3 separate regions of the Homo sapiens genome follow, and all the other regions are linked to region 3. The links come from fine-mapping of genetic effects on gene expression. A gene starts in region 3. Each other region holds a variant in brackets. All regions are shown on one strand. Distances are between the middles of the regions.

Region 1 (4,199 bases), 46 kb after region 3:
GCAATGTGTGAGGGTTCCAATTTCTCCACCTCTGTAATATCACTTTTTATTGTTTGCTTTTAAAAATTCTGATCATTCTAGCGAGTGTGAAGTAGTATCTCATTGTGATTTTAATTTGCATTTCCCTAACAAACAGTGATGTTAAACATCTTTTCATGTGCTGTTTGGCCATTCATATATTGTCTTTGGAGAAATGCCTATTCAGGTCCTTTGCCCAGTTTTTCAGTTGGGTTCTTTGTCTTTTTGTTATTGAGTTGAAAGAGTTCTTTATGTATTCTGGATACTAGATCCTTATCAGGTGTGTAAGTATTTGATTTTCAAATACTTTCTCCCATTCTGTAGGTTGTCTTTTGACTTTCTTGATGGTATTCTTTGAGGAACAAGTTTTTAGTTATGATGAATTCTAATTACCTATTTTTTCTTTTGTTGCTTACACTTTTGGTGTCATAGCTGAGAATTCATCACCAAATCCAAGGTCATGAATATTTACCCCTATATTTTCTTCCAAGGGTTTTATAGTTTAAGCACTTACTAAATGTAAGATCTCTGATCCATTTTGAGTTAATTCTTATAGATGGTGTGAAGTTGGGCTTCATTTTCATTATTTAGCATGTGGATATCCAGTTTTCCCAGTACCATTTATCAAAAAGACTATTCTTTTCTCATTGAATGTTCGGGCTGCTCTTGTTGAAAATCAATGGACTATAGACATATTGGGTTTATTTCTGGACTCTCAATTCTACTCCACTAGTCTATATGTCTATTTGCTGTTCCCTTTGCCTGGAATGTTCTCCCTTCAGTCTCATGTGGCTCCTTTCTATCATTGAGATCTTCTGGAAATGTCTCCTTAGAGAGGCCTCCCATTGTCACTCTCTGCCACATGACCTTGTTTTATTTTCCCCATAATTCTAATCGTGTTTGAATTCATATACCCTCTGAGAACAGAGTCTTCTGTCCTAGTTACTTGGTGTAAGCCTCCTCCTGTACGTAACAGGCACTTAAATATCATCAAATGAACAGTCAGTGTTCTCGAGCCTGGAACGCCTTTACCCTCCTTCTGCATGGTACCATCCAAAGGCCCCCTCCTCCCTGTGGCCTTTCCATTCATTCATGGTCAGCAGCACTGTTGGCCCCTTGCCTCTGTCGTGGTGAAGATTGGGCAAGTTGTCCTCCTGCATTTGAGTGGAAGCTCCCAGAGGGCAGGGCCCCCACTCTGTATCCCCACCTCTAGCCCACACCCTGTAGCTCATACAGAATGGGCCCTTGCCATGGACAGCCTCTGTTCCTGACCCTGGTCTGAATATGGAGTGAAGGGTGAAGGGGTGAAAGCAAATTTGAGTGAGGGGCTTAATCAAAGCGTGGTGGCCACTTAAGCCAAGAGACAAAGTTAAAGATTATTTCATAGCTTTTAGCCTCAGCATAGGGGAATGTCATTCTCAGGTCAGAAATGTGGAAGTTAAGTGGAGGATCTGGAGTGAAGACCAAGACAAGGAGTTCGGTTTTCCAGAAGCTGACTTAAAGGCTATGGCACAGTGGACAGAAGAAATGCCCCAAGGTGGCTGAGACTCTGGCAAGTCACAGTGGGAGCTCCCGGTTGCTGAGTGCCGGGTGTGGTGTAAACTGCCCAGCATGGGATCCTCAGAACCACCCTGAAAGTTTGGCTACACTAGCCCATTTACACAAGAGGAAACTGAATCCTTGAAAAGGGAAGCCACTTGCCCAGGGGCACACAGCCCATAAATGAGAGGCTGGACATGCAGACCCAGGCCTCTGACTCCAAAGGGTCCCTCTCCTCCCCTGTGCTGCCCCTAGAAAGGCCAGTGCTACAGGAGTTATTCCTGCCAGGGGCCTGCCCCAGACCTCTGCCCACAGGATGCCACCCTGTCAGCGAGAGAGGTGGGGCAAGGCCCAAATATGGAGGAGATGAAGCAACAGCTTTGGGCACATGCAGAAGCTGTTTGTGAAGGAATTAGAATATCAACAATTTTCACCTAGGCACTGGCTTGAAGCTGATACTTCATTGGATTACATGGCTGAGTGAGTAAAGATCCTTAACTAGGATCCTAAATACCATGAGCCTCCTTAGCCTTTCCCTCCTCTCCTGTCTTCTAAGCCTGTCCCAGCTGCCACCTTCCCCCGGCCGCCACAGAGCGCCTCTAGGGCTGACCTGCAGGTGAGCCTCCCAGCTGCCAGCTTCCCTCTTGCCCTTTGGGGATCCTTTCTGGCTTCTTCTGCCAGTAAAGGCGGGCATTGGTTTCCCACCATTCCTGGGGCACCAGGAAGGAAGAGTGTGTATGTGGGGCATGGTTATAATATCCTCAGCTCCAGGGACCCTGCAGTGGGAGGGAAGGGTGGAGGTCTGAAGATAGAGAGGAGGGCCAGGGCAGGAGGGAAGTGGCAGCAATTCCTGCGGGACACCCCTGTGAGTTCATGGACTGACTCTACCCCCTGTTGCTGTGCGACCTCAGGCAAGCTCCCTCCCCTTTCTGGGGGAGCCGGCCATCCTCTGTAGATTGGGGAGAGCACA[G/A]GGCTCACAAGGTTCATGAGACGAGGCAGGGTAGTGCAAGCCAAGCCTGAAAACAGGCATGTCCTGGGGGCCAGCTCTGGGGGGTGGGGTGGTTGTTGCAGGAGGCCTGTGATGGGAGGGAGGACGAGGACAGGGAGGAGCCAGCAGCTGCCATCAGGGTTGGGCACTGGGGAAATCCCACAGGGGCCACACCCATCTCCTTTTGCAAAGCCTGGAAGGGCCTGGAGGGGACAGAAGAGGGAGAGGTGTTGTTACCAGGCAGCATTGAGTGGGAATGGGTGCGAGGAGGTTTACAGGAGCCAGCGTGTAACTGCACACCAGGTGTTCCCATACGTCAGGAAACGCCTCTCCGCTCCAGCTAAGGAAGCCAAGATCCAGGGCCCGATTCCCTGCCTGCCTCACCAAGCTTCCCCTGGGGAGGGCACCACCCCCACCACCTGGCTCCTTTCACACTGCCCCGTGCGACCGACCCATGGCTCCAGGAGAGGGGGTTTAGAGTCAGGGACCAGCTCCTGGCAGTGGTTCTCAGAAGCTGCCAGCCTCCCAGCCTCTCAAATGGCCCTGCCGAGGTCTGCCCTCGGTCTCCTGTTCAAGCCCCTACCCTAACGAGGCTGCTGGGAGACGGTTTCCCTGCAGGGCACATGCAGTCTGGATGACTGGCTCCTTGCCGGGCCTGAGTGATGTCCCCGGCGCCTGCAATGAACCAAATGTGGTTATCCGTGCCTCTGCCCCTGCTGGCTCCCAGAAGCTGGCAATAGAATTATAGCCTCACGTCTGCCCTCCGCTGCCTTCCCCTCGGCCTTCCCCTCAGCTGCATTCTGGGGCGGAGCTGGGTGTCCTGCCTATTGTCCCTGTTGGGAAGGCATGGCTGAGGCTTGGGTGGCCAGGATTTCATGATGGGCTGGGAAGGAGGAGGATGAGCGCTGGAGCAGGGGTCCAGAGACTCAGCCTGGGGTCCCCAAGGGCTCTGGGCTGCTCACAAGAACTGCAGGCCTGGTCACCTCGCCCCTGCCTCCCCGACGCTCTCTCCTCGGCAGTCTTATCTCTCTGCAACCCAGGCTTGCCCAGGGCACTTCCCTCCTGAAAGCCTGTTGGTGGCTCCTGGCTGCCCACAGGACAAAGTCCAGGCGCCACCCCAGTTACTTGCCATTCCCCAGGGTGCCCAGTTCCTCCCTGGTGCATGAAGGGCAGTAGCCTCTGGCTAAGGACACAGGCCCAGGATCAGCTGCTCAGGGATGTACCATCCAGAGTCCCCTGACATCCTGGGTGTCCCCCTCTTCCTGGTGTCCCCCTCTTCCTGACCACCCTGAGACCACATTTCCCAGCCCCCTTGATCTAGGCATGAGTTGGGCCAATGGAAAGGGGGTGGAAGAGAGACGTACGCCACATCCACTTGGCCCATGAAAGTCTCCCAAGCAGGATCCTTTACTCAGTTTCCCTTTTGTTGCAAGCATGCAGGCCACAAGCTAAAGATGGTAGCACTAGAGAATAAATAGAGCCTGGGTCCCTGAATCACCACTTGGATTCACCCTAGACTGTGACATGAGCAAGAAATCAGCCTGTGCTCAGCTGCAGAGATCTGGGATTCTTTGTTCTAGCAGTTCGCTTACTCTGACTCACAAAAACCTTAGGAGTAACGGTGTGCAAGTGGTGTAACATGAGACCACTTTTC
Region 2 (4,199 bases), 210 kb before region 3:
TTCGAGACTAGCCTGGTCACCATGGTGAAACCCCATCTCTACTAAAAATACAAAAAAATTTAGCTGGGCGTGGTGGTGCGTCCCAGCTACATGGGAGGCTGAGGCACGAGAATCGTTTGAACCGGGGAGACAGAGGTTGCGGTGAGCCAACATCGTGCCACTGCACTCCAGCCTGGGCCACAGAGCGAGACCCTGTCTCAAAAAAAAATAATAATAATAATGACAGTAAGATAAATTCCAGATTATCTGGGAAGGGGAAAAAACAAGGAGAATTGGGGGAGGGAAGGGAACGTAGAAAGGGCTTTCTGGATCCCTATGACTAATAAATAATACCACTTCAGATGTGTGTAGCATATCACCATGTTTAAAGACCTTGACATAGGCCAGGTGCGGTGACTCACACCTGTAATCCCAGCACTTTGGGAGGCCGAGGCGGGCGGCGGATCACAAGGTCAGAAGATCAAGACCATCCTGGCTAACACGGTGAAACCCCGTCTCTCCTAAAAATACAAAAAATTAGCCGGGCATGGTGGCGGGTGCCTGTAGTCCCAGCTACTCTGGAGGCTGAGGCAGGAGAATGGCGTGAACCCGGGAGGTGGAGCTTGCAGTGAGCTGAGATAGCGCCACTGCACTCCAGCCTGGGCGACGGAGCAAGACTCCATCTCAAAAAAAAAAAAAAAAAGAGAGAGACCTTGGCATAAATGGATTCACTAATATAAAACCGAGATGTGGTTGGGGCCAGCGTTCCCCATTTTTTATAGTATATGACAGTGAGATTCACAACTCTTCCCAGGTCAACAGCTAAGCACCGCACCCGGCCTACGTCAAGGTCTTTAAACATGGTGATATGCTACACACATCACCCACGGTTAATGCTGACACACACATAAGGAAAAAATACAACTCCCTCTCCCCACAAGAGCCAGCTGCTCTCGCCTCTCCCCTCCCTCTTAGGCCTCATTCTCAGTGACTCTCCTTCCTCTGGCCCCTCCCTGCCCGTGCACAGCAATGCCCTGCTCACCTCACCACTCAGAGTGGGCATGGCAAGGCCCCACCTCCCTAGCCCCTTGCACACTCAGTCTTACCACTACCATCTGCTGTAAGAACACTGGCATTCATCTCACTGTTGCCCTTTATCTGGCTTATTTATTAATTACACAAAAAGACCCAAGACACCCACAATTCTACATTTCTTGGACTCTAAGATCTATAGAACTCTGATGCCACCTCCCACCCCACCACAGCCCCCATCTCCCACTCCTCCTCAAAAACTGGTATTTCCTCAGGGCCCTCTAGACTCAGTCATCAGCAAAATTCTCTCTATCGCCCACTTAGTTCCTGAGGATTATCTCCACCTACTTGTTCTAATTTATGTATTCTCAATGGTGTTCTCATTTCACTCTCAAGGGGTGAAAACTGTTTCCTAGAGGCTAGGTGGGAAAAATCTTAGATATTACAATAATGTTTGCCTATCCAAATCTCTACCCTATCTGACAAAATCTTATTCCTTAGTATTTCATTTTAAGGGGAAGGAGTAGGCACAAAATGTCTAAATGGGTCTGAAGGGGCAAAAGTGATAAAAAAAAAAAAAAAACAGGCTGAGGGGCACTGCTCCAATTGAGACATGGTGCCAGCCTGAGGATAGGCTTCCCCTGCGGGCCTCTGCAGTGGCTGCTTTCTCTTCACAGCCGTCAAACCAGTGGCCTACAGGTGGGCCAGGTGATTGCAGCATCCAACTATCCCCCCTCCCAATTTCTAATGCCCCAGCTCTGAGTACAACATCAGCTTTTGCCACTGTCTGCCCATCTGTGTTGCAGTCATCTTCCAATCCCCAGGTCACAACCTGTCCTTCTTCTCAGAAGATCTTAGTATTAGTTTATGGCTCATTACTAGTCTCCAAATTTATTCCTGGTGTAGCTCTTATTGATTTCAATATCCATATGTTGATCCATCCAGTACACTGTCTCTTGGTTGATATCCTCTCCTTCAATGGTCTCCATCCTAAGAAACCCAGGACTCCAAGACAGCCAAGTAAGACACCAAGACAGCCTAGTAAGACCCCTACCCCGCCTCCGCCATTTGCTCCCTTGCCTGCTCTGAGTTGACTCATTAACCATGACTGCAACCTCTCTATATCCTCAATTCTAGGGCCCCTCTCTGGCAACCACCTCCTACATTTCCAGCTCACCCCTTCTTGTCCCCAACACCACGAAGTCTTTGACCCCACCAGGCCTACAATCTACTGATTATATTACTTTCCACTGCCCTCATTCCCCTGTCTTCCGAGGTAAAATTCCCTAAG[C/T]AGTGAATGCAACCACACCTTTACACATGCACTCACCTCCTCCAGTGTCCCTTTCCAGCTGTGTCCATTCACTCAGCTCAACAGGATCCCATATTAAACCCAACTTTCTGCCTACTCCATGATTGTACCCACACAGCTATTCACGGCTGGACAGAGACACAAAATAATGCTGACTGACCTCACTTTATATCCATCTGCCACCACCCTCAAGTAGACCCTAAGTTGTCTAACAGTCACACCATATCTCCCTAGTTCATGTACTCGCCCACCTCCTAGAGGACTCTTTCCTACCCTTTCCCCTCCTCACGCCCCCAGTGCCTTCCTTCCCTATCCTCACTGTAAGCTGATGACCTGGCTTCCTGTTTTAAGACAGTATCCAGAAGGCTCCCCCATGAGTGCACCCAAACAACACCCGTCAGCCGAGCCCAACCTGTGCTGTCCATTCCCTACCTCTCACCTGCGCAAGGACATCAGCCTGGCAATTCTCCTTTCTGCTGCATCATCAATAATCCCTTCTCCAAACTAGACTGCTGTCATCAACAAAATATGCTGTCATTTCTCCCATTCAAAAACAAAATCAAAACTCTTGGCCTTACTTTTCCCTCCATTTGCTATCCCAGTACTCTGCTCCAAATTATAGCAAAACTCTTCAAAACAACTACCTATATTCAAGTGTTTTCAGTCCTTTCCTCCCATTTATCATAAAAAAAATTTCAGATCCACAAGAATGTTGAAACAGTAATACGAATCTCTGTAAAGCTTCTACTCAGATTACCCAATGGGTAGCATTTTGCATATTTGTTTTCATTTACTCTCTCTATATATATCTCTCTCCCCACCCCAGAGTCTTTTGTCAGTAATCCTCATGACACTTCACCATGTCCCAGTTACTAAGCTACTGCCTCTCAGCTCTAAGCCTACCCTCTCTCCTTGGCTGTGATGCAGGGTCTGGGACATTCAGCTTTGCCGGCAGCTCCCTGTTAGGGTTTACCAAGTAGGGGCACTAGAGGGAGACTACAGGCTCCAAGGGAGAGAAGGCACTGCTCCTTTCTGCAGGTTGCATGTTAGGAGAGCGTCACCCAGCAGTGTTCCACCCCGGCTGCAGCAGAGCCCACCTGTAGCAGCAGCTGAACCCCACTGGCAGATTTTCACACTCACAGAACCAGCCTTATTGAGACACCAGCACCAGCCAGCATGCCCCCGTTCCAGGGTCTGGGTCCTGGGCACACAATCCCCTCCCTCAAACTCAGGGACACTAGCACCAGCCAAGCCCTTCCCTGGAGGTCTGAGCTTGAGTTTCAGAGGGGCCCCCACTCCAAGCTCATTAGTGGCCTCAGGTTGCCACATTTGGCATGGTTGATCATTCCCCACTCCCTGAAATATTTTCTCATTTGGATACCACGCTCTTCTGGTTTTCCTCCTACCTACTGGATGTTTTTTCAGCTCTCTGAACTCCTAAGATTGGGGAAAAGGAACTCCCAGTCTTTTTCCCATATACATTCATTTCCTTGGTGACCAATTCTAGTTTTGTGACCTTAATTACCATTTATGAATGTTGTGGAGGTAAGAGAGAAAAGTAATCTAGTCTACTGCTAGTGGGAGAGTAAATTAGTACCTTTTTTTGAGGGCAACTTAAAATCCATGTCTCAGAATTTTCTTACAGATATTCTCCCATACGAGTGCAAAGATAATATGTATTAGAATGTTCACTGAAACAATGTTTTTAATGGCAGAATTAAAAAATAAAATTGTAGTAACACCTGTTTGCTTTAAATTAACTGTGCTAATTATAGATGAGGCCTCCAGTACCATTTGTTTAAGCCGATTCCTTAGGATTTGCTAGATAGATGATTTAAAGCTAGGATTCTGGAGTTAGACCACTTAGCTTCAACTTCTA
Region 3 (4,199 bases):
GATATCCAGAGCTTTTTCATCTTGCGAACCTGAAATCCTATACCTATTAAATGATAACTCCCCTCCCCAGTCCCCAGCCCCTTGTGAGCTCCGTTCCACTTTCCGTCCCTGTGCACTGGGCTACTCTAGACACCTCTTGGAGGTAGAAGCATGCAGGATTTGTCTTTTTGTGACTGGCTTGTTTCGCTCAGCAAAATATCCTCAGACCAACTGCATGTCCTAATAAAGACTCTGTTTCTCTCCCCAAGCAGGGTGATTATTTCTTATCATTATTTTAATTCTTTTGTTTTTTGAGACAGAGTCTCACTCTGTTGCCCAGGCTGGAGTGCAGTGGCACAATCTTGGCTCACTGCAACCTCTGCCTCCTGAGTTCAAGGGATTTCTGGCTAATTTTTGTATTTTTAGTAGAGATGGGGTTTCACCGTGTTGGCTAGGCTGGTCTCGAACTCCTGACCTCAAGTAATCTGCCTGCCTTGGCCTCCCAAAATGCTGGGATTACAGGCATGAGCCACTGCGCCCGGTCTACTTTATTTTTTTTTACTGAACATTCATCTTTTTTTTTGAGATGGAGTCTCACTCTGTCCCCCGGGCTAGAGTGCAGTGGCGCGATTTTGGCTCATTGCAAACTCCACCTCTGGGTTCAAGTGATTCACCTGCCTCAGCCTCCCGAGTAGGTGGGATTACAGGTGCCCGCCACCGTGCCCAGCTAATTTTTGTATTCTTTTAGTAGAGATGGGGTTTCACCATGGTGGCCAGTCTGGTCTTGAATTCCTGACCTCGTGATCCACCTGCCTTGGCCTCCCAAAGTGCTGGGATTATAGGCGTGAGCCACCGCGCCCTCCTGAACACTCATCTTAAGTGGTCAGCCTTGTGCATTTGTTTTTTGATGGGTCCTATTCTTTATTTTACTTATTTTTTCTAGGTTTACTGAGGCATAATCGACAAATAAAAGTAGTATATGTTTAAGTATACAACGTGATGTTTTGACATATGCATACCTTGTGAAATGATGACCACAACAAGCTAACTAGCATATCCATGGTGTGTATCCTGACATCTGTCAATACCCTGCCCTGGCAGCAGGGCGTCTGCCTCCATCATGGTCTCCCTGTGATTCTGATTCCTATCTTTGGAGAAGCTCTGGATTCCAGGCACAGTGGGAATGCTGAAAGGTCCTTGTGGACAATAGCTATTCTTCTTGGCTCTGTCGCTTCCCTTCACTGGGTGCAGGTGACTGTGGGGGTGTCCCCAAATGCTGCCCAGCGCTGACATGCTCCGCCTCTGGGATTTCAATCCAGGTGGGGCCCTGAGTGACCTGGCTCTGGGGCTCAGGGGTATGGAGGAGGGGGGATATAGGTAAGGAGTTTAAATTTCCAAATCTGTGAAATGGGAATAAATACTGACTGATCATGCCAGCTGCTGTGGGATTAGGGGGTGGACTCCCTGCGAGGCTCTGGGCATCTGGGGGTTCCACCTTTCCCACATGGCAGGCTTTCTAGGGTGCTGCACACTGTTCAGTTTGTGAAATTTCCTGGAGCCCTGTGCTTGTGATAGTGAACTTTTCTATATGTGTACTAAAATAAAAGCTTGTGAAAGTGCAGTGACCTTTTCCTCCTTCCGGAGATACACGGGGGGCGCCCCAGGGTCTCAGGCAGCTTTCCCCATGTCTAAGCACAGGCCGGGGTAGGAAAGGGGGTCTCCCTCGCTGGAGGAATAGGTCTATACCTGGGCTGGGGCCTCAGCTAGGCCTGGAGCAACTTTCTGCGATGTTTCTCTGCCCCCTGGAGGCAGGAAGGAACCTCAGAAGAGCCACACTCCCAAGCGGGCCCCTCCTGTCTTTCACCTGCTACAGCCAGGAAGGGGACTGGGCTGGGGTGGGAACCACAGGTAGGCATCGGAGGGGCTGCCAGTAGACCTGGTTTGGGTGGCGCTGCCGGTAGAGCTGGTTGGGGCGGGGCTGCAGGTGGAGCTGGTTGGGGCGGGGCTGCAGGTGGAGGTGGTTGGGGCGGGGCTGCAGGTGGAGATGGTTGGGGCGGGGCTGCAGGTGGAGGTGGTTGGGGCGGGGCTGCAGGTGGAGGCGGTTGAGGGGAGCAAGGTGGGAGGTGGAGCAGCTGCTATTTAAGAGGGGGTGGTGGTGCCGGTTCTGCAATTAGGTTACTGTGTCTTGCTGGGGCTTGGTCTTGTTTGCTGAAGGGGCAGCAGGGCTCTACCATGGAGGGTGTAGGGGGTCTCTGGCCTTGGGTGCTGGGTCTGCTCTCCTTGCCAGGTAAGCTGGCTGCCTGTCCCTCCTGCTGCTGGCTCCAGCCTGGAGAAAGCTGGGGAGAGGCTAGAAGGTTGTGGCTGGAGCCTGCAGGGATTGTAGCTGAGCTCAGTAGCTCAGAGCACAGAGCTCTCCAGGGTTATTCTAGAAGTCAGCTCCTGGGGGGCCAAGGGGAGGCCTCCTGAAGGCCCTGGAAGCAGAGGGCCTGCCTGGCAGAAGATAAGTGTTGTGCCCCAGGCCTACTTGTCTTGGGGTGGGGGTAGGCTGTAAGTCCCCACTCCAGCCTGGTCAGGCAGGGAGTCATCCAGGCTGAGCCCATTGTCCAAGAGCCTGGGCTGAGAGAGAGTCATAAGGTGGGGTCTGAGGCTGGCCCTGCCCGTCACGGGCGTCAGAACCCGAGGTCTGTCCTGCCTCCTTCCTTCCTGCCCCTCCTCTACCTCATAGGTGGGGCACATGGTCCCTTTTGGTCCCCCTAAGGGAGCTCCTTCCCTGAGGTCATCTAGACCTTGGCACCAGTTGGGGTTGAGCAGGGAGGCTGGGAAGGCTCCTTGGCTTTGTGCTGGAGCCTACTCTTCCTAGGGACTGAGTCTTACCGTCTGATCCCCCACACCCACCCCATGTCCTGCTGTCTGGTCTCACCGGTGGGTGCTCCAGGCATCTGTGTATGCCCCTGTCTGTCTGGACCAGGTGTGATCCTAGGAGCGCCCCTGGCCTCCAGCTGCGCAGGAGCCTGTGGTACCAGCTTCCCAGATGGCCTCACCCCTGAGGGAACCCAGGCCTCCGGGGACAAGGACATTCCTGCAATTAACCAAGGTGAGGGCACTACATCTTCTCACGGCCTGGAGGGGCACGACGTTATGTAGTGTGAAAACCACACCGAACACTCAGAAATGCAGAGCCTGGGAGGAAATGGACCAGCTTACTCTGGGCTCTAAGTGGTTTTTAAGAGATGGAGTGGTGTTGCTATATTGCCCCGGCTGGTCTTGAACTCCTGGCCTTAAGTGATCTTCCTGCCTCTGCCTCCCGAGCAGCTGGGACTACAGGTGTGAATGGGTGGAAATTCTATGGGCAATTGCTTAAGTCTACTCTTTCTTTTTGTATCTTTCTTAGTGGATTGTTACTTTTATAAGAAAAACCAAGCTCTTAAAGGGCCTGGGCGTGGAGCTAAGCGGTTAGTCGCAGTCTGAGATTGTCAGCCACCCTGTGCAGGACTGTCTGCAGGTGTGATTAAGAAGTCTGAAGCTCAGCTGGGTGCGGTGGCTCTCGCCTGTAGTCCCAGCACTTTGGGAGGCTGAGGCGGGCAGATCATGAGGTCAGGAGATCGAGACCATCCTGGCTAACACAGTGAAACCCCGTCCCCACCAAAAATACAAAAATTAGCCGGGCGTGGTGGCGGGCGCCTGTAGTCCCAGCTACTCAGGAGGCTGAGGCAGGAGAATGGCATGAACCTGGGAGGCGGAGCTTGCAGTGAGCTGAGATTGCGCCACTGCACTCCAGCCTGGGCGACAGAGCATCTCACAAAAAACAAAAAACAAAAGTCAGGCTCAGGGCCTTGCTGTCTGGGGATGTCAGCTGAGGAATGAGGGTGTATAAATAGCCTGAACAAAGCCAGTTGAAATGGAGACTGGAGTTCAGATGTTGGAGCAATGAGGGCTGAAGCACTCAGGGTTGAAGCAATCGGGCTGAACAGGGGACAACCTTGCCCTAAGGGTGGGTGAGATCCTACCAGATGTGGTAGCCACTGTGTGATCTGCCCCCTTCTTCCTCTGTGAGCTGACTTGGGAGCCCAGCGCCAGCTGAGCCTTGAGCCCCAGGCACCATCCCACCCCTGGATCACCGTGAGTGGTCTGCAGGTAACCAGAACCAATGGAGAAAACTCCCAAATGCTGGTGACCCCAACAACTATCCTATCACCTACGGTGAGGCTGTCTCATAAGGG

Direction of the effects. Alleles are on the strand shown, and positions count from the first base shown. SD is a standard deviation of normalised expression in the study named. Not every link is listed here.
In carriers of allele G in region 1, the expression in minor salivary gland of the gene that starts at base 2,146 in region 3 tends to be lower than with A alone (large effect, 1.4 SD a copy in GTEx).

The links. PIP is the estimated chance that this variant, and not a neighbour inherited with it, causes the effect.
Region 1: its variant is the best candidate, but not a certain one, in a credible set for the expression of ASTL in minor salivary gland (GTEx, PIP 0.65).
Region 2: its variant is the best candidate, but not a certain one, in a credible set for the expression of ASTL in minor salivary gland (GTEx, PIP 0.86).

The regions. Positions count from the first base shown.
Region 1 is chr2:96,090,685-96,094,883 of GRCh38, reverse strand. No RefSeq gene overlaps it. Among named protein-coding and RNA genes, the nearest start is that of ADRA2B, 24 kb to the left of the region's middle. RefSeq lists an enhancer at 2,128-2,643. The variant G/A (reference allele first, on the strand shown) is at 2,528.
Region 2 is chr2:96,344,674-96,348,872 of GRCh38, reverse strand. All of the region lies in intron 6 of NCAPH (non-SMC condensin I complex subunit H), which reads right to left. Among named protein-coding and RNA genes, the nearest start is that of NCAPH, 11 kb to the right of the region's middle. The variant C/T (reference allele first, on the strand shown) is at 2,303.
Region 3 is chr2:96,136,449-96,140,647 of GRCh38, reverse strand. ASTL (astacin like metalloendopeptidase) reads left to right here and starts at 2,146. Exons shown (of 9, transcript NM_001002036.4): 1 at 2,146-2,266; 2 at 2,948-3,073. The coding sequence starts at 2,212. RefSeq lists a silencer at 1,242-1,331 and an enhancer at 2,222-2,291.